Homo sapiens: one gene and its partners. The protein of the gene in region 3 interacts with the protein of the main gene of each other region in a pairwise test. Each region holds a gene or a part of one and is shown on either strand. Other genes may lie near its edges. The genes, in order: SLC10A6, SCN3B, DERL1 and UBE2J1.

What was found.
Region 1: the proteins of DERL1 (region 3) and SLC10A6 interact in binary tests that used the Homo sapiens proteins (3 or more experiments, as listed by UniProt).
Region 2: the proteins of DERL1 (region 3) and SCN3B interact in binary tests that used the Homo sapiens proteins (3 or more experiments, as listed by UniProt).
Region 4: the proteins of DERL1 (region 3) and UBE2J1 interact in binary tests that used the Homo sapiens proteins (3 or more experiments, as listed by UniProt).

The regions. Positions count from the first base shown.
Region 1 is NC_000004.12:86,832,375-86,839,414, forward strand, and holds part of SLC10A6 (sodium-dependent organic anion transporter), read right to left. Parts: intron 1,051-7,040; coding exon 932-1,050; intron 1-931. UniProt on the Homo sapiens protein: Transports sulfoconjugated steroid hormones from the extracellular compartment into the cytosol in a sodium-dependent manner without hydrolysis.
Region 2 is NC_000011.10:123,637,615-123,644,654, reverse strand, and holds part of SCN3B (sodium channel regulatory subunit beta-3 precursor), read left to right. Parts: intron 1-1,983; coding exon 1,984-2,209; intron 2,210-3,180; exon of another isoform or gene 3,181-3,688; intron 3,689-6,034; exon of another isoform or gene 6,035-6,116; intron 6,117-6,330; coding exon 6,331-6,469; intron 6,470-7,040. UniProt on the Homo sapiens protein: Regulatory subunit of multiple voltage-gated sodium (Nav) channels directly mediating the depolarization of excitable membranes.
Region 3 is NC_000008.11:123,039,293-123,046,263, forward strand, and holds the start of DERL1 (derlin-1), read right to left. Parts: upstream 3,011-6,971; 5' UTR 2,831-3,010; coding exon 2,678-2,830; intron 1-2,677. UniProt on the Homo sapiens protein: Functional component of endoplasmic reticulum-associated degradation (ERAD) for misfolded lumenal proteins. Forms homotetramers which encircle a large channel traversing the endoplasmic reticulum (ER) membrane.
Region 4 is NC_000006.12:89,326,125-89,328,762, forward strand, and holds the end of UBE2J1 (ubiquitin-conjugating enzyme E2 J1), read right to left. Parts: 3' UTR 501-2,638; downstream 1-500. UniProt on the Homo sapiens protein: Catalyzes the covalent attachment of ubiquitin to other proteins. Functions in the selective degradation of misfolded membrane proteins from the endoplasmic reticulum (ERAD) and is essential for cells to recover from ER stress.

The DNA of each region.
Region 1 (7,040 bases), on a different chromosome or scaffold from region 3:
TGGGTGGACTGCCTGAGCTCAGGAGTTTGAGACCAGCCTGGGCAACACGGTGAAACCCTGTCTCTCCTAAAATACCAAAAAAATTAGCCGGGTGTGGTGGCCTGCACCTGTAGTACCAGCTACTCGGAAGGCTGAGGCAGGAGAAGGCAGAAGTTGCAGTGAGCCGAGATTGCACGACTGCACTCCAGCCTGAGTGACAGAGCAAAACTCTGTCTCAAAAAAAAAAAACAAAAAAACATAGTGCCTATCACTTTTTCAAAAACTGACCACACTAGAAAAGGCAGATCATTTCACCACATTTCTCTTCTAAGCTTGCTAAACCCACAGAGATCTTTAGGAAAATGGCAGACTTTCATGAGAAATAATATTCAGAAGAGGAGATAATGAAAGAGATATGGGTGAGACTGTGACATGTAGATGAGTTTTCATAATCAGTAAGAATTATTTACATTCAACCTCCAAGAAAAAGTCAAGGTTCGCAGGCAATGTGAAAGGTGAAGTCACAGGAAGGTCTAATTAGAGCCACTAGATCCAGTTAAACCTTGGAGTATAAAGAGTCCAATTGCTTTATAGTCTAATTACATAAGGGTTTGATTCCTGCTTTTTCAAAGTAAATTATCTGGCTTTCTTTTTTTTTCAAAAATGCACTCTTATAGGGATGAAAGTTTGCACTTTGTAGTCAGATTCCCGGGTTAGAACTCCAGTTCCGTACTTACCAGCTGCATAATCTTGATCAAGTTACTAAACCTCTTGAAGCCTGAAGACCTAGGAGACTGAACTGGTAACAGAATCTATACTGTAGGGTTCTTTAAGGGATTAAATTAAGTACTACCAAAAAAATCCCTGCATAAAGAGTTATATAATTAAGAACAGCTATTATTAGTATCATCACCATTACTGTTAGTCCTCCATTTCCCAGGCCCATACAGACCTATGTTCTGATAAGGAATGGTGAGATTCTGCTGAAGACTCCAGGACCAGGTGTAGAGATAAATGCAGAGTGGCATCATTCCCAGGGCGGCCACGGTGGAACAGGTTGTCATACTGATGCTGAAAGTAAAATTAATACAATGCTTAGGAGGGAGCATTGGACATGAAGAATTTAGTCTTTACCAAAAGCAACTCCTAGGACACAATTTCCTAGAGATTACATGGACTAAGCTCCTTGGAGCTCATTTCTCTCCCGTTGTTTAACAAACGATGGCTATATTTCTGGTCTACAAAGAGATTTCCAGTAGTTCTTGTCATCCATCAATTACCTCATATTTATTTTACTATCTACTTGCCTTAAAATTCTGCTAGGCACTATAGAATTATTTTCTTATCTAGTTCTTTTTTATTGAAGTATAATCCACAAGCCATAAAATTCATCATTTTAAATTATACAATTCAGCAGTTTTTAGTATAGTCACAACATTATGCAATAATAGCACCATTTCCAGGATAGTTTCATCACCCCAGAAAGAAACCCCATCCCCATTAGCAGTCACTCCCCAATCCCTCCTTCCCCTAGCCCTTAGCAAGCACAAATCTACTTTCCGTCTTTATAGGATTACCTGTTCTGGACATTTCATATCAACAGAATCATACATGCAGCCTTTTTTCTGTGTCTAGCTTCTTTCCCTTAGCATAACATTTTCGACGTTTGATAATAGTTTGGCTGTTTGTCCTCTCCAACTCTCATGTTGAAATTTGATTCCCAACGTTGGAGGCGGGGGCAAGTGGGAAATATTTCGGTCACAGGGGCAGATCCCTCATGAACAGGCTGGTGCCATTCTCGTGGGATTCACTGAGTTCTCACTCAGTTCTTATGAGCTCTAGTTGTTAAAAAGAGTCTGACACCTCCCTCCCCTCTCTTACCATGTGATGCCTGCTCCTCTTCCCCTTCCACCATGGGTGGGGTCTTCATGAGGCCCTCACCAGATGCAGATGCTGGCACTTTGCTTCTTGTGTACAGCCTGCAGACCCTCGAGCCAAATAAACCTGTTTTATTTAGAAATTACCTACCCTCAGGTATTCCTTCATGGCAACTCACATGGGCTAAGACAAGGTTTATCCATGTTTTAACATATATCACAGCTTCATTCTTTTTATGTCCTTATTCTATTAATATAGTATATCACATTGATTTTTCTGTATATTGAATCAACCTTGCATTTTGAAATAAATCATATTTGGTCATGGTGTATAATCCTTTATGTTGCTAGATTCAGTGTGATAGTATTTTTATTGAAAATTTTTGCATGTATATTCATAAGAACTATTGATCTGCAGTTTTCTTTTCTTGTGATATCTAGTTCTGGTACCAAGGGGATTGGAAGTGTATTAGGCTGTTTGCATGGCCATAAAGAAATACCTGAGGCTGGGTAATTTATAAAGGAGATTCATAGTTCTGCAGGCTGTACAAGCATGGTTCCAGCATGTGCTCCTGGTAAGGACCTCAGGAAGTTCGCAATCATGGTAGAAGGCAAAGGGGAAGGGGGAGCAGGTATCTCACATGGCCAGAGAGGGAGCAAGGGAGAGTGAGAAAGGGGAGGTCCCAGACTTTTAAACAACCAGATCTCATGTGAACTAACTAAGCAAGAACTCACTTATCACCAAGGAGATGGCATTAACCATTCATGAGAGATCCACCCCATGATCCAATAGCCTCCCACCAGGCCCCACCTCCAATACTGGAATCACATTTCAACATGAGATGTGGAGAGGACAAACACCCAAACCACATCAGCAAGTTAGAATGCCACAAAGCTGACTGAACGCCTGCCCAGTATGAAGTGTTAATAAATATCTGTCAGGAAGAAGTCACGCAAACACCACATGCCATAAGCTCCCCATTGGATAGGGCAGTGACCCCCACAGTCGCTGACCTGCAGACAGAGCAAGTTGGTTAGGGCAAGGGAAGGTACAGAACCACAGAGAAAGGGAACTGATGTGAGATGCTAGACTGAATTAAGAATTCTGTTCCAATCCTGATATCGTGTGATCCTATGATTAGAAACTGTGATTGGGCCAAGCATGGTGGCTCATGCCTGTAATCCCAGCACTTTGGGAGGCCAAGGCGGGCAGATGACCTGAGGTCAGAAGTTCGAGACCAGCCTGGCCAACATGGTGAAACCCTGTCTCTACTAACAATACAAAAATTAGCTGGGTGTGGTGGCAGGTGCCTGTAATCCCAGCTACTTGGTAGGCTAAGGCAGGAGAATCACTTGGACCCAGGAGGCGGAGGTTGCAGTGAGCCACGATCATGCCACTGCACTCCAGCCTGGGCAACAAAGTGAAACTCCATCTCAAAAAAAAAGAAAGACAGAAAGACGAAAAGACACAAGAAAAGAAGAAAAGAAAGAAAAGGAGAAGAAAGAAAGAAAGAAAGAGAGAGAGAGAGAGAAAGAAAAGAAAAGAAAAGGAAGGGACTGAGATTTGAGATTGAAGTAGAGTGATGAGTTAGAGTACAAAGTAAGATTTCTAGGCTTCAAAATGATGGTGTGATATACAAAAAAGCTGAGTCACTTAGCATCAGTTAGAGGGGTTGTGTTAAGTAAGGTGATAGTGGGACATCCAGTCTTTGGTGAACAAACCTGGAAAGATTTCTAAAGACAATCAGTCTGTTTATCTGTGTCATTACTGGGGTTGTCTCTGGCCACCTTGGAAAGTGAAATGTGGGTTTGTGAGCCGGACGAACCAAACCAAAACCAACAGCCATGCTACATAGCTTTACCAGGAAAACAACTGAGACCATCAGAAGGAAGTTGTGGTCTTTGTTCAACAAATCCAGAATGATTTCTACTGGAAAACTGGTTTGTTTATCTCTGTTATTATTGAGGTTAATTGTTTCTAAGTCAAAAGGCTAACACATTTTAAGCGCAATGGTTCTTAAGAACTTTTAAGTACATAATGTCTGTGACAGAGGGGGAAGAGTACTTGGTTTGAAGTCCTCAAAAACTGTGTATCGTGATTACTGCTATGGTCTGAATGTGTCCTCCAAAATTCATAGGTTGGAAATCAAATCCCTAAGACAACAGTATTGAGAGGTGGAGCTTTCTGGGAGGTGTTTAGGTCACAATGAATCCACCTTCATGAATGAATTAATGCTATTTTAAGAGGACTCCACCAAGGAAGTTTGTTCCTTTTTGCCCTTCTCTCTTCCACCACGTGAGGAGCAAGAAGGACCTCACCAGACAATAGATGCCAGCACCTTCATCTTAGACTTCCCAGCCTCCAGAATGTAAGGGAATAATTTCTCTTCTCTATACATTAACCAGTCTCAGGTATCCTGTACAGCAGCACAAAATGGACTAAGACAATTACTATATTGTTATTACATTATATGAACTAAGTTACTGCTTCACACATTTGTAATTTGTTGCAGATTTTTTGGGGTTTTGTTTTGTTTTGTTTTTTGAAATGGAGTCCCACTCTGTCGCCCAGGCTGGAGTGCAGTGGCGCAATCTCGGCTCACTGCAACCTCCACCTCCTGGGTTCAAGTGATTCTCCTGCCTCAGCCTCCTGAGTAGCTGGGATTACAGATGCCCACCACCACACCCAGGTAATTTTTGTATTTTTAGTAGAGATGGGATTTCACCATGTTGGCCAGGCTGTCTCGAACTCCTAACCTCAGGTGATCCACCCGCCTCGGCCTCCTAAAGTGCATGAGCCACCACGCCCGGCCATAATATACTGTGTTTTTGTATTTTCCATATATATTTTTGGTCTAAATTTATTTAGGGAAAAGCACTTAGTTACATTAACTGATAGTTAATATTTTATATATTGTAAAGCCTCCTTTGCTCTAAACCAGGGAGAGGAAGAAGAGCCCATGGTGCATGTAGAGAGAGAGAGAGAGAGAGAGAGAGAAAGAAAGAAAGAAAGAAAGAAAGAAAGAAAGAAAGAAAGAAAGAAAGAAAGAAAGAAAAAGAAAGGAAGGAAGGAAGGAAGGAAGGAAGGAAGGAAGGAAGGAAGGAAGGAAGGAAGGCAGGCAGGCAGGCTGGGATTTGAGAAGCAAGTAAGCAAAACATCATGTTGTACACCATAAATATACATAATTTAACTTGTCAATTAAAAATAAAATTTAAAAAAGAAGTCAGTGGAGAGCTGGGAGGTTATATTTCATGAAAGCTAAGAAAAGAAAGCTCCCAAATGAAGGCTAAAAGCCAATAAAAATCAGGGAGGATGAGAACTGAAGAAATATTCAACCTTACCCCACTTTTTGGTGCCTTCCATCCCAAATCTATTCTTTCCATCTCAGTCTCACTCCCAAATCGCAAGTTAAGGCTGTATTTTGTACCTACCTGAGTGATAGAACCAGTGAAAGAATGCATTAGTAAAATTAGGGGAAAGAAAATAAATGGAAAGAAGATACCCATCAGACCAGTCAAATATTTTATCTTTCAATTTGCTGGAAAAAATTACACAATCTGTTTAAGCATGTACAAACTGTTTATAGACACTGTGCTCATTCTGTGCTCAAGGCACAAATGACTGACAGACTGAGAAGCAGACTGCCCTCCTGCTCTACAAAGGAGAGGGAGGAGGCCCTTCATACGTCAAGGTCTTCTGCATAGACAGAAGGTCCTTCAGCACTTTATTGGGTCTACAAGTCATCTGTCACTCTTCCTCCTAATATATATCACCATTGCTTCCATCCAATTACCCTGTCTATAAAATAATACGTCTATGACTACTTTAACATTTTCTGCCAGAAGAATGTTTATACTCTTGACAAAGCAGCATCTGTTTTACTTCAATGATACTAAAAAGATTCCCTCTGTGCTCTCACTCATTGCTGGTAAAAATGGTACACCACAGAGGGTGTCTGGCAATATCTAGGAAAATTAGCGATCCTGCTTCTAGGATTCTGAATCCATGGCCCTCTGGACATGGTTTTATTGACATTGGCTCATGAATTATACACATGCTGTACCCTACACAAGTACTTATGTACCTGTCCATCTGTGCCAGAGTGAGTGGCATGACAGCCAGGTCCTATTTTCCTCTCCATCTCTAGGAGACCTGGCATAGTCTCACGCTGCAGCATATTGGAAGAGCTCGTTAAATACTTACTGAATAAATGTATGAATCAAAGAATGAACCAATGTCAACACACTGGTGCTATGGAAATATTCTCTCTGTCTCCGTCATATGTCACGTATCTCCAGGTGAACATTGGTAAAAATCTTACTGAAATGACCCCTTTATACTTAGTTCAAATGGTAAACAGCCCCATAGCAATCCAGAAAAAGAGACTTTCTATAAAATTATGCTCTCCCAGCAGGGCATGGTGGCTCATGCCTGTAATCCCAGCACTTTGGGAGGCCAAGGCGTGCAGATTACCTGAGGTCAGGAGTTCGAGACCAGCTTGGCCAACATGGTGAAACCCCATCTCTAAAAAAAATACAAAAATTAGCCGGGCATGGTGGCACACGCCTGTAATCCCAGCTACTCGGGAGGCTGAGGCAGGAGAATTGCTTGAGCCTGGGAGATGGAGGTTGCAGTGAGCCGAGATCATGCCATTGCACTCCAGCCTGGGTGACAGTGTCTCAAAAAAAAAAAAAAAAAAAAAAAATTATGCTCTTCCCAGACAAAAGCAAGTAAAATTTTAAGAAGCAAATATTTAGCTGATTGGTGCTCCTTTCAGAAATCCAAACTTAGATAACTTGCAAGTATTTGTGTACATCCTTCTACTCTTTTATTTTTCTTTTAAGCAGTCCATTTATTTCATGATTGTTTGTTAAATCAATAGGATTTTTTTCTTTCATTATTTTTTCTTTTTAAAGGAATCAGACCAGGTGCAGTGCCTCATGCCTGTAATTCCAGCAATTTGGGAGGCTGAATTGGGAGGATTGCTTAAGACCAGGAGTTTAACAACAGCCTGAGCAACATAGAGAGACCCTGGTCTCTACAAAAAAAAAAAAAAAAAAAGTACAAAAATTAGCTGAATGTGGTGGTACACACCTGTAGTCCCAGCTACTCGGGAGGCTGAGGCAGGAGGATGGCTTGAGCTCAGGAGTTTGAGGCTGCAGTGAGCTATGCTCACACCACAA
Region 2 (7,040 bases), on a different chromosome or scaffold from region 3:
GGACTATAGGCACCACCACCATGCCCAGCTAATTTTGGTATTTTTAGTAGAGACAGAGTTTTGCCATGTTGGCCAGGCTGGTCTCAAACTCCTGACCTCAGGTGATCCACCCACCTCGGCCTCCCAAAGTGCTGGGATTCCAGGTGTGAGCCACCGTGCCTGGTCGGCTGTCATATATTTTGAATACCACCTTGGAGATGACCATTATTTACTCCTTCACTGACTGTGGAGCCAGGCCACCTGGGTTTGATTCTTGACTTCACACTTATTATCACCTCTGTGTCCTTGGACATGTTGGTCATCCTTTCTGTGCCTCGGTTTCCTCATTTTTAAAGTGGGGATATAAAGCATAGCCAAATTATAGGGCTGTTACCAGGACTCATGAGCTATAATTTTTAATGCATTAAAAATAGTTTCTGGAATATAGTAAGCACTGGTAAATGTTTGCTAGAGAAAAGATAGACACAGAAATGAGGAAACTGAGGCTCAAAGAAGTTAAGTTAATAACTAAGACAGCTTTGACTTGAGCCAGGTGGTCTAACAGCAGATACAAGGCCCTTTTTACGGCACTGCTTTGCCTTCCTGGGGGCAAGTTTCTCCTCCACAAAGATTTGTAACAGAGACAATGGAAGGGCGAAACTGGGTTTAGCTTGCTCTTCTTTCTCACTATCCTAAAGCCGAACCCATTTCTAACTCTAGCTTCTATGTGCCATTCTGATGCAGATTTGCAACCGTCTGGTACTAAGACTGGGACCAGCGGAGACTTCCCAGAGCCTGGCTCAGGTGTGACAGTGACACGTCAATGAAGCTGCAACTGAGGCTAGCCCCCAGCTGCAGGAGGCTGGATGTCTTGGCCAGATGCAAAGGCCCCCAGGGCCTTCAGGCCTGGTCATGTACCAGTGATAGCTGCCCACATTGCTTCCAGGCCTGCCCAAAGTGAGGAAAAGGTGGATCAGAAGAAGAAGAAAATGAAAAATAAAACGGCAACAGCAAAACATCCATGGAAATCCACAGCAAGGCTGTCTCATAGAAATGTTTGTGATGGTGGAAACCTTCTCTATCTGTGCTGTGCGATACAGTGGCCACCAGCCACATGTGGCTATGAATAATTGAAATGTGGCCAGTGCCACTGAGGAACTGAATTTTACATTGTATTTAACTTCTAAGAAATTGAATTTAAGTAGCTACATGTGGCTAGTGGAGACTAGAATAGCCAGCACAGCTGTAGAGAGAGAATGGCACATAGAAGCTAGAGTCAGAAATGAGTTTGGCTGTTATGTCAGAGGGTGGAAGTGTTGAGGAAAGAAATTTAAAAGATGATATTTTAGTTAAAATTCAGTCCAAAGCAAAAGATGTGACGTGTGCCTCTCTGGTGATGGCTCTCTGCTCATCTGCCATGCTTCAGCATCCTGGGCCTCCTTCCTGTGGCCTGGCCCAGACTGTCCTACAGCCCCTGATGAGTACCAGCACAGAGAGTCCAGTTTTAAAGCCAGGGCTTTCATATGTCTTCATTACTAATGAATCTGCCTGTCTTGCTGTCTCTACCTTGTTCTCTTGCCAGCGGCTCTGGGACACATCTTACTCTCTTGTTCTCTCTATCTTTTTACAATCCTGTCTTTCTCTCAATGTCCGTCTCCTGGGCTCCCATACTCTTCTCCCGCCTGCCTTTGTTCTCCCTCTTTCCACCCCTTTTTTTCTGCCAAGCTTCTTCCTACACGCCCGTGGCTGCCTCTGTCCTCACCACGTCCACATGCCCTGATGCCTGCTGCCTCTGCCTGTCCTTCCCTGTCTTTGCTCCCTTCCCTACCCTCCTCTGTGCCTCTTCATCCCACCCCCACATTCTGGGTCTCCCGGTGGCATTGTCCCCTCTCTTCCCTGTCCATGCACAATTCTGCTCCTTTTCTCTGCCCTGTCCCTAACTCGGCTTCCCCCCACTGCCATCTCCTTTCCTGGCCCTACCCTCTTCTGCTCCTCTATCTGCAGATTTACGAGTATCGGAATGGCCACCAGGAGGTGGAGAGCCCCTTTCAGGGGCGCCTGCAGTGGAATGGCAGCAAGGACCTGCAGGACGTGTCCATCACTGTGCTCAACGTCACTCTGAACGACTCTGGCCTCTACACCTGCAATGTGTCCCGGGAGTTTGAGTTTGAGGCGCATCGGCCCTTTGTGAAGACGACGCGGCTGATCCCCCTAAGAGTCACCGAGGAGGGTGAGGCTGAGGCACAGGGTCTCTAGGGCGTCCTGCTCTCTGTGGACAGGGAAGGGTAGGACAGCAGTTTTCCACGAGTGAGGCCCTTAAAGAGTGCAAAAACCCATGTATTTGGAATGGTGACATCTAAAAATGTCACCATTGACCCATCTTCTTCTGGTGGCCAGCTTCCTGTAAATTCCCTAAGCAGCTTGTCTTTCTGTGCCTTTCCTCAAAGCAGAAAGGCTTGGAGATGATAGAATGAGCTCTTCCTGGTCCCTTAGAGAAAGAGGCTAGCCTCCATGAGGCCTAAAGCTACTGATTCAGCTAGGCCTTCTTCTTTGGCCTATGTTGAATCCCTGACTCAGTGGGCTCAGAGAAATCTCATGAGGTTACCCGGAAGTCATCTCTCCTTCTACCTGTAAGCAATACATGCCTCTAAGCCAGGGGTTCTCAAACTTTAGCAAACCTCAAAATCTCCTGCAGGGCTTTTTGGAAGCCAGCCTTTCTGCTTTTGTCGGTGGAGCCTGAGAGTTTGCACTGCGTGACACACTGCCTGGCGGGCAGTGCTGCTGCTGGGACCACACCTTGAGAACCTCTCTCTAAACCAAAGTTTGACAATCTTTTTTTCTTTTGTCTTTCTTCACAGTAATCACACGTGCAACCTCTTCCCCATCTGTGGCATCTCTTATTACATAAATTCATTCCCTGCTGGGAGAAGGGGACAGGTTGATAGCTCTCTAGTCTTGTTTAAAATCTTTGGACTCCTACAGCTAGTTCCGTGTTCGTGAGTGGGAAGGCCTTTCAGCAGCCTAACTCAGGTGTTTCTGTTGCAACCGGAGTCCTGCATCCTGAGGGGGGAGTTCCAGCCTTTCTCAGTCTATCTCCAGCATTATCACTGCTAGTGAGCAGGCCAAAGTGTGGGGCATGAAGGAAAAGATCAAGTTAAAGACAGGGCTCTTCCTAGAAAAAAGGATCCAGGAATCCCAACCTCCAGGCCACAGGTTTATTCATTTTTTATCATGTCGTTGTGATAAAAATAATGAAGCGGAGATTCAGTCCTCAGAGTGAATGAACAAAGGAGAAAGAGACATAACGGATCAGACGATATGACTAAAATGGAAGGTAGGTCAATTCTGAAAGTGCAGAGGGACTCTCAGGGCTCCTGAATCCAGACCTGATGAGTCACTTCCCTGCTCGGAGCCCCGCTCCTCTGGTGTGAAATGAAGGGGTTGGCGGGGGGCTCTCTGAGGTACTCCCCTGTTCTGAAGTTCCTTTATCCCCCGTTTGTTACACGCCTTTCCTCTGGGGGGTGGGGCCCTGGCGCCCTCTCCTGGTCACCATCTGGAACTTTTGGTTGGTGCCCGCCAGACCTTAGCACAGTGCTCAGCCGTCTCCACCTCTGCTCTCTCGGGCTTTTGCCTCCAGACACCCTCGTGCATAGCTGGTGGGAAGTGTGGCAAGGCTGAGCTAGTTCGTCTGCCAGGTACCAGAGCAAGCCTCGGGTAAAAACAGAAGGAAAAACAAGTTTATTATCAGAGCCACAGAGCCTCGTGGATGGTCGGGTGTGAAGGAAGCGTGGATATCATTTATTTAATCCAGGGCCTCTGGATAAAGGGCAGACATCAGAATCGCCCACATTGGCGTCCTCCAGATGTAGACACCTCTGCAGCACCCTTGCAGGTGTGAGATCGGCAGGGGTGAGTGAGGTCATATGCAAGTTGATGACTCCCCAGGTGATTGGAGGGTGTAGCTCTGGTGCCCCTCTTTTTGTGGCTGGGAGAACAGAGTTCTCTGCAAGAGCAAGGGGCTTGCTCAGGGACGTGCAGCAAATTCGCGCTGGAAGCAGGGTGAAAATCCAGATTGTTCGCCTGTCTGGAGGGCTTGCTTTCCACTGTTTCTTTCCCCACCCCCACCACCCCAACCCCCTGCCACTTTTTCTTTTTTGCCTCTGTGACATCAGATACTCCCTGCCCTCATCTTGCTCAGAGCTACGCACCCACCCCACCATGACACCTGCCCATCAACCCCACATCTCCTCCATTCCTGTGGTCCCACAAGGTCTCCCTGGTTCTCTTTGTTCAAGTTGGGTTTATTCTGGCTTTGGCTGTCACCTCCTGGCCCTAAGGCAGAAACCTGAGGCCTCTTCACCTAGAGGTAACTAAAAATACTGAGGACAGCTTCCTGTATTGCCATTTGTGGGCTACTGCATTTTGAAAGAGAGAGCATGCTTTAAGCCAAACAAATCATAAATAATGCACGAGGTGGTAGCAAGGCGGTGAGATGTTTGAGCTGTACGGCATTCTCATGTGCCTCACGCTGCATCTATGACCTCTAGCTCCAGTTGGAAACCTGGGTGATCCTGGAGCCTTCGGACTGCTCTCTGGGCTGAAAGTTATGGCAGGCTGTGCTGTGCTCTTAACAACCAAGGACTTGGGGATGACTTAGATCCAATGGATAACTGCAGATCATAAATCTGACTTGCTGTTGAGAGCTGGCAAGGGGAGAGGTGGCTACAACATTTCTCCCACTAGCAAGGAGTAGATATATCAGGATATCTGCCATGTAGTATGTTTTAATGGTCCTTTTTGTTGATCATGAAACAAATAAGATAATATTTATTTTCACTCATTCAATAAGTACTTATTGAGCACTTTAAATATTCTAAGATTTATACAGCAGGCAGATAATCCAGAAATAAATATGTTCTCAATAAGCACACAGTCCACAGAAAAGAAAGATAAGCACAATACAACTCTTATAACAGATGGATGAGAAAAGTGCATGGAGGCCAGACGCGGTGGCTCACGCCTGTAATCCCAGCACGTTGGGAGGCCAGGGCAGGAGGATCACCTGAGGTGAGGAGTTCGAGACCAGCCTGGCCAACATGGTGAAACTCCGTCTCTACTAAAAGTATAAAAAATTAGCTGGGCATGGTGGTGGGTGCCTGTAATGTCAGCTACTTGGGAGACTGAGGCAGGAGAATCGCTTGAACCTGGGAGGCGGAGATTGCAGTGAGCCGAGATCATGCCACTGCACTGCAACCTGGGCAACAAGAGCAAAGCTCCATCTCAAAAAAAAAAGAGAAAAGAAAAGTGCACGGAGAAGGTTGTGAATAGCTCCGCATGAGAAGTTGGGGATGGTTTCACAAAGGAGGGGACCTCACAGGAATCTAGAACTACTGCGAGACTGCAAAGCAGGAGAGGATATTAGCACAGAACTAGCCGTGGGTGAAAGACACAATTCAGGAAGAGGGAAGAGGAAGAAAAGTTCACAGATTCTAACATACCACAGTGTGTAGCAGAAGTTTTTCTGGCCAACCAAATGGAAATGAGGTGAGAAAGCCCGGATTGTGAAGGCCCTTGCATGTCACGTGAACAGAGTTGGGGCTTCATCCTAAGGGGAGTGTGGAGCATTGAAGAGTTTTCAGCAGGGAAATGGCAGGATCCTAACTGTGTTTCAAAAGTACAGCCCTGGGGACAATGCGGTTGATACACTAAATCCTCCAATATTTATGTTTGGTTTTGGATGACCTGGAAGGTCTTGTTTCTAACCCAGACTTGTAGAGAACATGCGCATATCTCATGGAGGCTGTCTTTGTTGGCCCTGAATGAGTTTTCCAACGCTCTCTCCCCAGGAATACCACCCTCCACCACCGGCAGCTCAAAAGACAGAGGCAGTTGAAATAAGGCATGTTCCTTACATCTGTGTAGACTTTTAATCTCACAAGATGTTCTGAAATACATTAGATAATGTAATATTCACAAACCCCTGACTGGTGTTATTATCCTCAACCTACAAATTAAGAAACTGAGTCTCAAGTAAGGGAAATGGTTGTTTACACACCTGTAAATAGCAAAATGGACAGCCAGCTCTAGATATCTCACTTTGAGGCCAGGATTCCTTCCACTGCTCGGCTACTTCTTCCAGGCATCCCACTCCCTCTTCCCTGGCTCCTGAGCAGCTGATGACAGTCAGTGAGAAAGCCAATGGGCGGGAGAGTCAGGATTTGGAATACCTTTGACATCTTCTTGAGTTTCTTTACTCAGTCTTTATTTAAGCTGTACTTAAAAATATGGCTCCAATGACGGCTCTAGGTTTGCTGGATTTGCATATTCTGAACCTCATTCTCTTTCTTTCAGCTGGAGAGGACTTCACCTCTGTGGTCTCAGAAATCATGATGTACATCCTTCTGGTCTTCCTCACCTTGTGGCTGCTCATCGAGATGATATATTGCTACAGAAAGGTCTCAAAAGCCGAAGAGGCAGCCCAAGAAAACGCGTAAGTCCAGAGATGCCAAAGTAATAATGAAAGCTAGCACCTTCAGAATGCTTGCTCTCACAGGTGAGGTGCTAAGCAGTTTACATTCATCCTCCACCCTCTTCATGATCACTGCTTAAGAGATAGGCACCATTATTATACCCATTTTACAGATGAGAACACTGAATTTCGGAGAGTTGGCTTAAGGCAAACTCTTAATTCATTACGAAAAATTAAACATTTGCTTAATTCAAACATCACTTAGGAAACAAAGTGATGTTTGAATTCAGGCCTGTTGATTCTTGGCCAGCACACTTAACCACTAAGGCAAAGACCATCAGCTGCTACCACAACCCGTTAAAGTAATATTATTATGGCTGGGCATGATGGCTGTCACGCCTGTAATCTCAGCACTTTGGGAGGCTGAGGCGGGAGGATCACCTGAGGTCAGGAGTTCAAGACCAGTCTGACCAACATGGTGAAATCCCGTCTCTACTAAAAGTATAAAAAATTAGCTGGGCATGGTGGCACATACCTGTAATCCCAGCTACTCGGGAGGCTGAGGCAGGAGAATCCCTTGAACCTGGGAGGC
Region 3 (6,971 bases):
GTCCTTTGTTCACAAGGCTCCAAAGACTTCATAGTGCCCTCAAAATAAAGTTCAAACCTCTTAACATGACCTACAAGGCTCAACTATGATCTAGCTTTAACCCACCTTTCCATCTTAGCTTTACTACACCCAGCCCTGGCTATCTCCCTGCTGTCATCTACTAATCCTCACCCTACAGCTGACCCTGTGCCAGCTGGCAACCCAGTCTTCTTCCTGTTCCCAGCTCCTACTTCTGAGCCTTTCACTTACTAGTCCTTCCTGGAAGGTTGTCTCCAGAGCCAGATCTACCCAAAGCTGGCTGGCTGGCTCCTCAGTATTCCAATTTCTTCAAATGTCTTCTCTGAGGCCTTTCTGGGTGGAACACCCTATCAAATATTACACCCCTTAAAACACGTGCCTCTATGTCTTCACAGGCTCTGAAACCTTTTCAGTCCTATTTACTATTGTACCCCAGTGCCCAGCACACAGCAAGTGCCCAATTACTTCCAACAACTCAGTTAATATATAAGCACCTACTACGTCCCAGGCACTATTCCAGGTAACAAGGACAGTGGTGAACGGCTCTCATGGAGCCTTATTCTCTGAGGGGAAGCAGACTAATAAATACCAAAGGGTAATATGTAGCAAGAAAAATGAAGGATAAGGCCAGGCTCAGTGGCTCACGCCTCTAATCCCAGCACTTTGGGAGGCTGAGGCGGGTGGATCACCTGAGGTCAGGAGTTCAAGACCAGTCTGGCCAACATGGCGAAACCCCGTCTCTACTAAAATACAAAAATTAGCTGGGCATGGTGGTGTGCACCTGTAATTCCAGCTACTTGGGAGGCTGAGACAGGAGAACTGCTTGAACCCAGGAGACAGAGGTTGCAGTGAACCAAGATTGCGCCATATACACTCCAGCCTGGGCAACAGAGCGAGACTCCGTCTCCAAAAAAAAGAAAGAAAGAAAGAAAAATGAAGGATAAGGGATAAGGGAGTGGAGTGAAGGACGGGCTATTTTATGTACGGCCATCAGAGAAGGCCTTGTCAACAAGACGGCATTTGGGCAGAGATCTGAAGAAGGTTAGGAGGTAAACAACTGAGCCACGGTTATCTTCCTCAGGCAGAGAAACAACATGTGCAAAGGCCCTGAGGAGAGATCCAGATAAGCACTGAAGTAACAGCAAGGATCTCATTGTGGAGCCTAAGGTACAAGTTGGAGAGTAGTAGGAGATGAGGTCAGAGAAGCAGCAGGGGCCTTGCAGGCCACTGAAAGGACTTGGATTTTACTCATTAAGAAGACATGGTAGGATTCTGGACAGAGGAAAGACAGGACTTGATGTAGGTTTTAAAAGGATCACTCTAGCTGTCTAGAGAAAAGATGGAAAGGAACCAGATTGCAGTGATAATGGCTTGCAATGGAGAATGAAAAGGGATTGTATTCTGGATATATGTCTCAAGTAGAGTCAATAGGATTTGCTGACAGATTGTGGGGTGTGAGAAAAACAAGAAAAATAAAAGATGACTCCGACAATTAACTTCAGCTCCTCTAATAACGGAGTTGCTATTCACTTCTAAGGCAAAGGGGGAAAGGGGATTCAGTTTTGGACACGTTAAGATGAAGATGACTCTTAGTCATCCAAGTCGTGATTTCAAGTAACTGCTGGATGCACAAATCTGGAAATAGGGAGACAGATCTGGACTGAAGATATTTATATTTATATTTCAGAATCTCCAGTTTATAGAAAGTATGTAAAGCCCTGAGGCTGAATGAATGAGACCACCTAAAGCTAGGGAGAGTCTATAGAAAAGGTCCTATAACTGATTCCCAAGGCACATCCTAACATTTAAAAGTCAGGAAGATAAGGAACCAGCAAAGGAAACCAAGAAGTAACACCCAGTGAAGACAGGGAAAGACAAGAAAATGTTATCCATAGGCCAAGTAAAGGGCTGAAATTAATGCCAGATCTTGCTATCTGACCTGCCACTGATTGAAGTTTTAAATCAGAAATTGGTGAATACAGATAACCTTCAGAAAACTGGCACTCTCTTGACAGAAATGTTACTCTGGACTGTTTCCTTCATGCTTAAGAAAATAACAAGGCCTTCCATTTCTGGACAAATGTACTCTTTGCCCATTCCTTCGTACATTCTATTACTACGTGGGGGACACTAAATTAGGTCTAGAGGGAAATGCAGAACAATACACTCGTTCTTTGTATCTCTGACTTTAAATCACTCCTATAGGAAAACCAAAACAAAAAAACTCCATAAACGTGAAAGGAACTCAGCTATAAGTTGGTGAAGTTGACACCTACAGGCCACCCACGTGGGTGACAGAGGGAGGTCAGAGGGCAATGCTCCAGGCGGACCTAATCGCCAGCGTCCAACAGATTGACAACTACCAACGACTAATCTCACTGCTTCCTTCACTGAGTGCGAAGAGCGGGAAGCACAATCTCACTATACCAGTGAAGTCAACCCCTCCCCACCAGGCCAGCCCACAACTCCAGCTATCCAGCACCCCGCTCCAGATCCCAGAGCCTCCCCGGGCCCAAAGGACCCCGCCCTAAACCGCCGGCGCCGGACCCACTACAAATCCCAGCAGGCACCGCGCGCCCGCAACATGCCAGCCTACGCTTAGCCGCCGCTGGGCCTCCTGGGGCCTGTAGTCTCCACGCCCCCCGTCTCCGGTAAGTACCTGAAAGCGATAAAGGAAGGCTTCGGGCCAGAGGAAGAGGTAGGCCGGGCTGATGAGGCCGAGTTTGCCGACCAAGGGCACGGCGACGGTGGCGGCGAACCAATAGCGCGTGATCGCCGGGATGCTCCTGAACCAGTCTCCGATGTCCGACATCTTCGACCCACAGGTAGCCAAGATGCACAAGACCGCCCGACTCCCCGTGCCGACCCCCTCACGACGCGGCCGGCTCCGCGACTGTTAGGTGTCTAGGTGGAAGCCGCCGAAGCCGCGATGCAGAAGGCGGAGACGGGCGGACGTGGCGCCACCGAATTCGGACCAGCGAGGCAGCCTTCTGAGGCGAAACTTCCCCTTCCGGCGACCGCGGACGACGTGACCAGAAGTCCCGCCGCTTAAAGGGTAAGCGCCGATTTTACCGCCCGGCCGAGGCTCGGCGTCCTGGGGGGCGGAGCCAGGTAGAGCGACTACACGACTGGTGGGAAAACAGTGGTTGCCTGGATCAACGGCAAACGCTCCGGCCAGTGGCGAGGCCAAATGCCATTCACCTAGTTCTCAGAGTTTTAATGCGGCTGGGTCCACCTGGAGGGTATTTAAAGGGGACGAAGGCAAACGAAGTGTCTAGTTCCTCGTCTGCTTACTCATTCCACAAGTGTTTGTTGGGCACAGTTCTAGACACTGGGCAGCTGCGGCTGTCAGCGCTGTCGTGGTACCCTCTCTCCTGATCTTAACATCCTCATTGGGATAATTTATAAACAAATAGATAATGAAGTAAGATAATCTCAGAGAGTGATTAGAAAAATAGGAAAATGAAATGAGATGATGAGGTGGAGTGACGGGGTGGGGGTGCGGCAGTGTGAGGACAGATGGCTACCTTAGGTATGAACTGGGCCAGCCAGGCAAGAGATCTGGGGGAAGAATTTTCCATGCACAGAGAAAAGCCGCTCTAACTAGGTTGGAATGTTGGAGGAACTAAAAGCCAAAATGATCCATCTTGTCTAATTCAACTTGTATAAGAAGGAATCTTTAAGAAAAGATACTGGCCAGGCGCGGTGGCTCACGCCTGTAATCCCAGCACTTTGGGAGGCCGAGGCGGGCGGATCACGAGGTCAGGAGTTCGAGACCAGCCTGGCCAACATGATGAAACCCCGTCTCTACTAAAAATACAAAAATTAGCCGGGCATGGTGGAGGGCGCCTGTAGTCCCAGCTACTTGGGAGGCTGAGGCAGGAGAATCGCTTGAACCCGGGAGGTGGAGGTTACAGCGAGCCGAGATTGCACCATTGCACTCCAGCCTGGGGGACAAGAGCCAGACTCCATCTCAAAAAAAAGAAAAAAAGAAAAGATACTGAGTAGAGTTTCCCGTTGTTTTGGGATTTGGGGCCAGCAGTTTAAGATTGCTAAAGTCTTCCAATAAAGAGCACCAGGAACAAACCTGTAGTCAACAAAGTTAGATTTATTAACTTGCTGCAGCAAGGGAGACTGCACTCCAGAGGAACCTCAATGCCTCTCATCAAACGGAAGTGTCATTATTGGGTTATGGGAATGGGGGGATTTTTTGGTAAGAATTAACTGGAGCAGTGTTTGATAGACTCGAAGCAAAGCAGAGCTGTGTGCAGCATCAGGTTAACATCAGACCTGAGTAGGAAGCAGGCTCTTTCCTTGGAAATCTCAAAATTACGACAAATGTGAAACGTTGGGTCTGAAAACTCTATCTAAAGCTTTGTACCTGTATTGAAAATCCTGTGTCAAAGTGACCTGTATGGCTCAGATGCTCTGGACAAGAATGGGATGTTCCATTCACACGGAAAGGATGTCAGACAGCAGAGTTTCCAACATTCCATAATTTTAGAGAATATTTGTCAGCACCATATCCTTGATGTTAATTAATAAAAACAGTTTTTTCATAACAAAAAGGCATTAAATATTCCACAGTGTAATGAGAGTATACAACATTTGGGAACCAATGGATAGCAAATCTACGAAGAACACAGCTGGTGGGAATATAAATTGATACAGCCTTACAAAAAGATAATTTTGATATAAAAGCTAGATATTTATATAAATAACAGATAATACTTGACGATATTGCCTGAGGTTTATTCTGTTTATTTCCCTCTACTACCACCACCATTGTTTTGTACCCACTACTCATAACCAAGGTACAGTGAAAGAAAACAGGGGTTATCTGGCTTAGGTGGAGGGCTAAGGAAAGTTTCTCTGATAAACTTAAAAGTACACGTGCATGAGAAAAGACAAGAACAAGAAAAATGTACACCCAATATCTGGCAGTGTTTATTTCTTTTTTTTTTTTTTTTTTGAGACGGAGTCTTGCTCTGTCGCCCAGGCTGGAGTGCAGTGGCGGGATCTCGGCTCACTGCAAGCTCCGCCTCCCGGGTTCAAGCGATTCTGCTGCCACAGCCTCCCGAGTAGCTGAGACTACAGGCGTCCGCCAGCACGCCCGGCTAATTTTTTGTATTTTTAGTAGAGACGGGGTTTCACCGTGTTAGCCAAGATGGTCTCAATCTCCTGACCTCATGATCTGCCCGCCTCGGCCTCACAAAGTGCTGGGATTACAGGCGTGAGCCACCGCGCCCGGCCTGGCAGTGTTTATTTCTAAGTTGTGCTCTAGAATTCATAGTGAATGCTCTGGAATTCAACTTCGGCCTTTAGAAACACTGAAGTTTAAATCAGAGCAACGGTAGGCCAGGTATGTCTGGTCTTTTCTTGTAACTTTACATTCAAAGGCTTTCTGGCTGGTCCGATGGTAGTGATTTATCAGAACTTATTAACATTAGTGTCACTAAAGTTGGTATACAACCCCCCACTGCTAAATTTGACTGGCTTTTAAAAATATTTATTATTTTTAAATAATATTGAATATTTATTAAATTTATTATTAATTTATTAATAATATTATTTAAATAATTATTTTTTAAAGGCTTTCTCTTTCTACAAAGTCTTAATAATCATTTTAATGACTAATATTCTACTAGTGATGTGGCAGAATCTTTTGACCATTTTCCTATTTCTGATACCTGTTTTTAAATACTATATATAGTTCTATAATGAATACCTTTATGCATATACATTTTATACTAATAGCTAACTTTTTTATTTACTAATATCTAACATTTGCTGAGTGTCTACAGTTTGATTGGCACTCAGCTATGCCCTTTATGGGCATGGTTTTAATTAGTCTTTACAACAATGCTTCAACCCTATGAAGTACTTTTATTTCCATTTACAAATGAAGAAACAGCCTTAGAGAAGTTAAGTAACTTGGCACTTGCCGGCAGGTGCATATATAAAACTTCAACCCAGATCTATTTAAAGCCAAAGGTGGTGCTTTTTTTTTTCTTTTTTTTTCTTGAGACAGCGTCTCCCTCTCGCTTCTGTCACCCAGGCTGGAGTGCCAGTGGCGCAATCTCGGCTCACTGCAAACTCCGCCTCCTGGGTTCAAGCAATCCTCCTGCCTCAGCCTGCCAAGTAGCCAGAATTACAGGTGTCCACCACCATGCCTGGCTACTTTTTTGTATTTTTAGTAGAGACAGGGTTTCGCTATGTTGGCCAGGCTGGTTCCAAACCCCTGGCCTCAAGTGATCCACACACCTCGGCCTCCCAAAGCGCTGGGACTACAGGCATGAGCCACCACGCCCAGCCCAAAGGTGGTGCTCTTTCATTCATTTATTCAGCAATGCTTTTGTCCAGTGCTTGTTATATACCAATAACAGTTCTAAACAGTGAACTAAACTGACAATTATCTCCACCCTCTTGGAACTTACATTCTAGAGGAGGCAGAAAGACAACAGAAAGAGATAAAAGTAAGATGTACAGGCTGGGCGCGGTGGCTCACGCCTGTGATCCCAGCACTTTTGGGAGGCCAAGGTGGGCAGATCACCTGAGGTCAGGAGTTCGAGACCAGCCTGGCCAACATGGGGAAACCCCGTCTCTACTGAAAATACAAAAATTAACCGGGCATGGTGGCATGCGCCTGTAATCCCAGCTACTCAGGAGGCTGAGGCAGGAGAATCACTTGAACTCGGGAGGTGAAGTTTGCAGTGAGCTGAGATTGCGCCATTGCACTCCAGCCTGGGCAACAAGAGCGAAACTCCTCTCAAAAAAAAAAAAAAAAAAAGTAACATGTACAGTAGGTAAACTGGCAATAGGAATAGGAAAAGAAAAAAGAAGAAAAGGAGATTTGGGCTGGTGAGGGAAGGCCTCACTGCAAACTCAGAAGATATTGAGTACACGTCTCAGGGTGGTGAAAGAGCAAGCAGTGTGGAGATCTGGAGGAAGAA
Region 4 (2,638 bases), on a different chromosome or scaffold from region 3:
ATTTTATAGTTTTAACTCTTACATTTAGGCCTTTGATCCATTTTGAGTTAATTTTCTTATATGGTGTATGAGGTAGTGGATGGTATAACTTTATTTACTCATTTTTCTCAGGGCAGGGTATAGCCCCAGTGGATCGAGGTCAGAGCTGTGGGAAGGCCCCAAAGGCATTTGCTGAGGTCTGATTATGCCAGACACCTAGGTGGGACTCTAGTCATGCACAGCCTTGTGCTTTATGTTAAGGGTTTCACCCTATCTAAGAGCAACAGGAGAGAAGAGATCAGGTCTGTATATTGAAAACTCTGGCTGCAATGTAAGGAATGGGGTGAGACTAGAGACCTGTTAGGAGGTTACTGCACCAATTTGGAGGAGTTAATAGCTAAATAGGATATAGTGCCTAGTTAGGGAAGTGGAAAGATGAGAGAGAAATATTCTAGGAGGTAGAATGGATGAGAGACAAGACTGGATGATGTAAAGAATACAACCTTTGGTCAAAAACAAGGTATGAGTAAAGTCACTGGTTTTATTGAGCAGCTCAAACTAGTTCTGAAGGCAACTGTTCAGAAGGCGTTCCCAACAGCTTTTGAGCAATGCACAGCCTCCCATAAAACCTTAAAAAGTACATCTGTTAATGTGCACATTAGTCTTTGTTAGTCACGTTCACTAAATGCATTAACCTTACATATACTTCCAATTAAAAAAACACATAGGCTTTTCAGTATTTTGGCCTAGATTTTTGTTCAAATGAGTCCAAATGTGTGAGTGAGGTTTACCTGTTTTCTGATTCTGATCTATAAAAATGGGTGGTCTCAAAAGACCAGAAAGTTTATTCATAGCCAAAAATGACAAAAAGAGTTCTTATTCTCCCAAAATAGGAAATTTTGTATTCCTATAGTCAAAACAATAAACAATTTTTGAAATTAAAAAAGTTGAGAATCTTGAAATTCATTTTTTTCAGTAGAATAAAACAATAAGCAGCATGAAAACGTAAAGTGCTACATAAAAGCCCCACATTACATAAATTTTGAAAAGTTTATTGGCTTAAACAGTTACAGGTGAAACAGATTACGTATTTTTTTTTCAAGCATGCTATTTTAATTACCTTGATATCTCATCATGTGCTATGTTGGTCAAATAAAATGTCATGAGTTATCTAGATCTGAGGATTAAAGAGGAGTCCTCAGCCTTTACTTGCCAGAATATACATCCAGTTTTAGCTGTATGCTGGAATTAAGGAGTTAAAGTAGGGCTTTAAAGATAATAGTTTTCTGAAGAGGCCTTTCAGTGGGGCTTGGACAAAAAGGGCCCCAAAGACCAATTTTGCTCATTAACCTCACACTGGGGATCAGATTGACAACTTAAGGATTTTTAGGGAGCATATGTGAGATCAAAGGGAAGAAGAAAATGGTGCCCCTTTCAGATGGTGCTTCAGGTGCTAAAAAATATCCCAACACAAACAAGCAGGTGGCTAGCTGACAGGTGGGGGAAGAGATGCAAGTCAGATAGCAAAGGATCTGCACAGTGCAAAATCTTCTTGGCTTTTTATTTAACTTAGCAGTGAATGCAGCAGGATTGGCTTAAAGTATAGGTACACCCCATGGAAACATGCAATAAGATCACATCGATCCAGAGGCTGGCTCAAGTTTGACTGAGGGGAAACGGAGGGAAGGCTGTTCCTAGCACACAATCTCAGCAGAGGTTGAGGTGGTGGGGATTTCTTTCTTCTCATATGACGCTACCGTCGGTGACTTCTTACTAGGAGACCACTGAGCACTGAATCAAGGTTTCTAATATGTTTCAAATCAAGATTTTAGAGTGTATTTTCTTATGGCAATAGAGTTATAAAATGGTAACCTATGATTTTCCTCATATAATGAGATCTTCATAAAGTCCTTGAGCTTTTTAGACTTTAACAAATTCAGCTACAGATATAAAAAATAATCTGTAAACACCTTTAAAATGCGAATTTATTAAAGTTTAAGACAATTCTGTATTATATAATAGTGTACAATATGTTCTTATTTTAGATGTAGAAATAAAGGAAAACTGGCTCTCAGATGAAAACAGAAATTGTGTCTGACAGTTAATAGAACGAATGTCCCATAAACAGGAGTAAAAATTAAATTTTCCTTTAAGACGATTTTACAATTATTTCTCTTGTCCATAATTTCACTTAGTTAAAACCACATAAGGACTTTATGAATACCCTCCCCTATACTATTCAAGATATACATATGGGCTAACTTTCGTGGACCGATCTAGAACCTAAATACCACTTCCAACATTGTTTGACTTGTAAAAAAATTAACTTACAAATAACACTTTTGGAGCATAACCTATTTGAAAGCTTGGAACCACCTGTATTTAAAAATTAAATCTTCATTAACAACACCCTCAAGAGTGCCCTCAGTGCTGCGAACTGAACATGCTGAAGGCAATGTTTTTCTGTGATTATATGGTTTCACCAGCCATTATGATGATAATATTATCTACTAGAGTCTGTGGCGCTAGCTAGCACTAAGTTATATATTGATTTTTCCACTGAAAATTCTTTCTTGGGCTCTGACTAGGTGGACAATTCTAAGTAAAGGTTTTTCTAACTTCTATCACTGTTACTTGGGCCCTGAGGTTTTCTATTAAA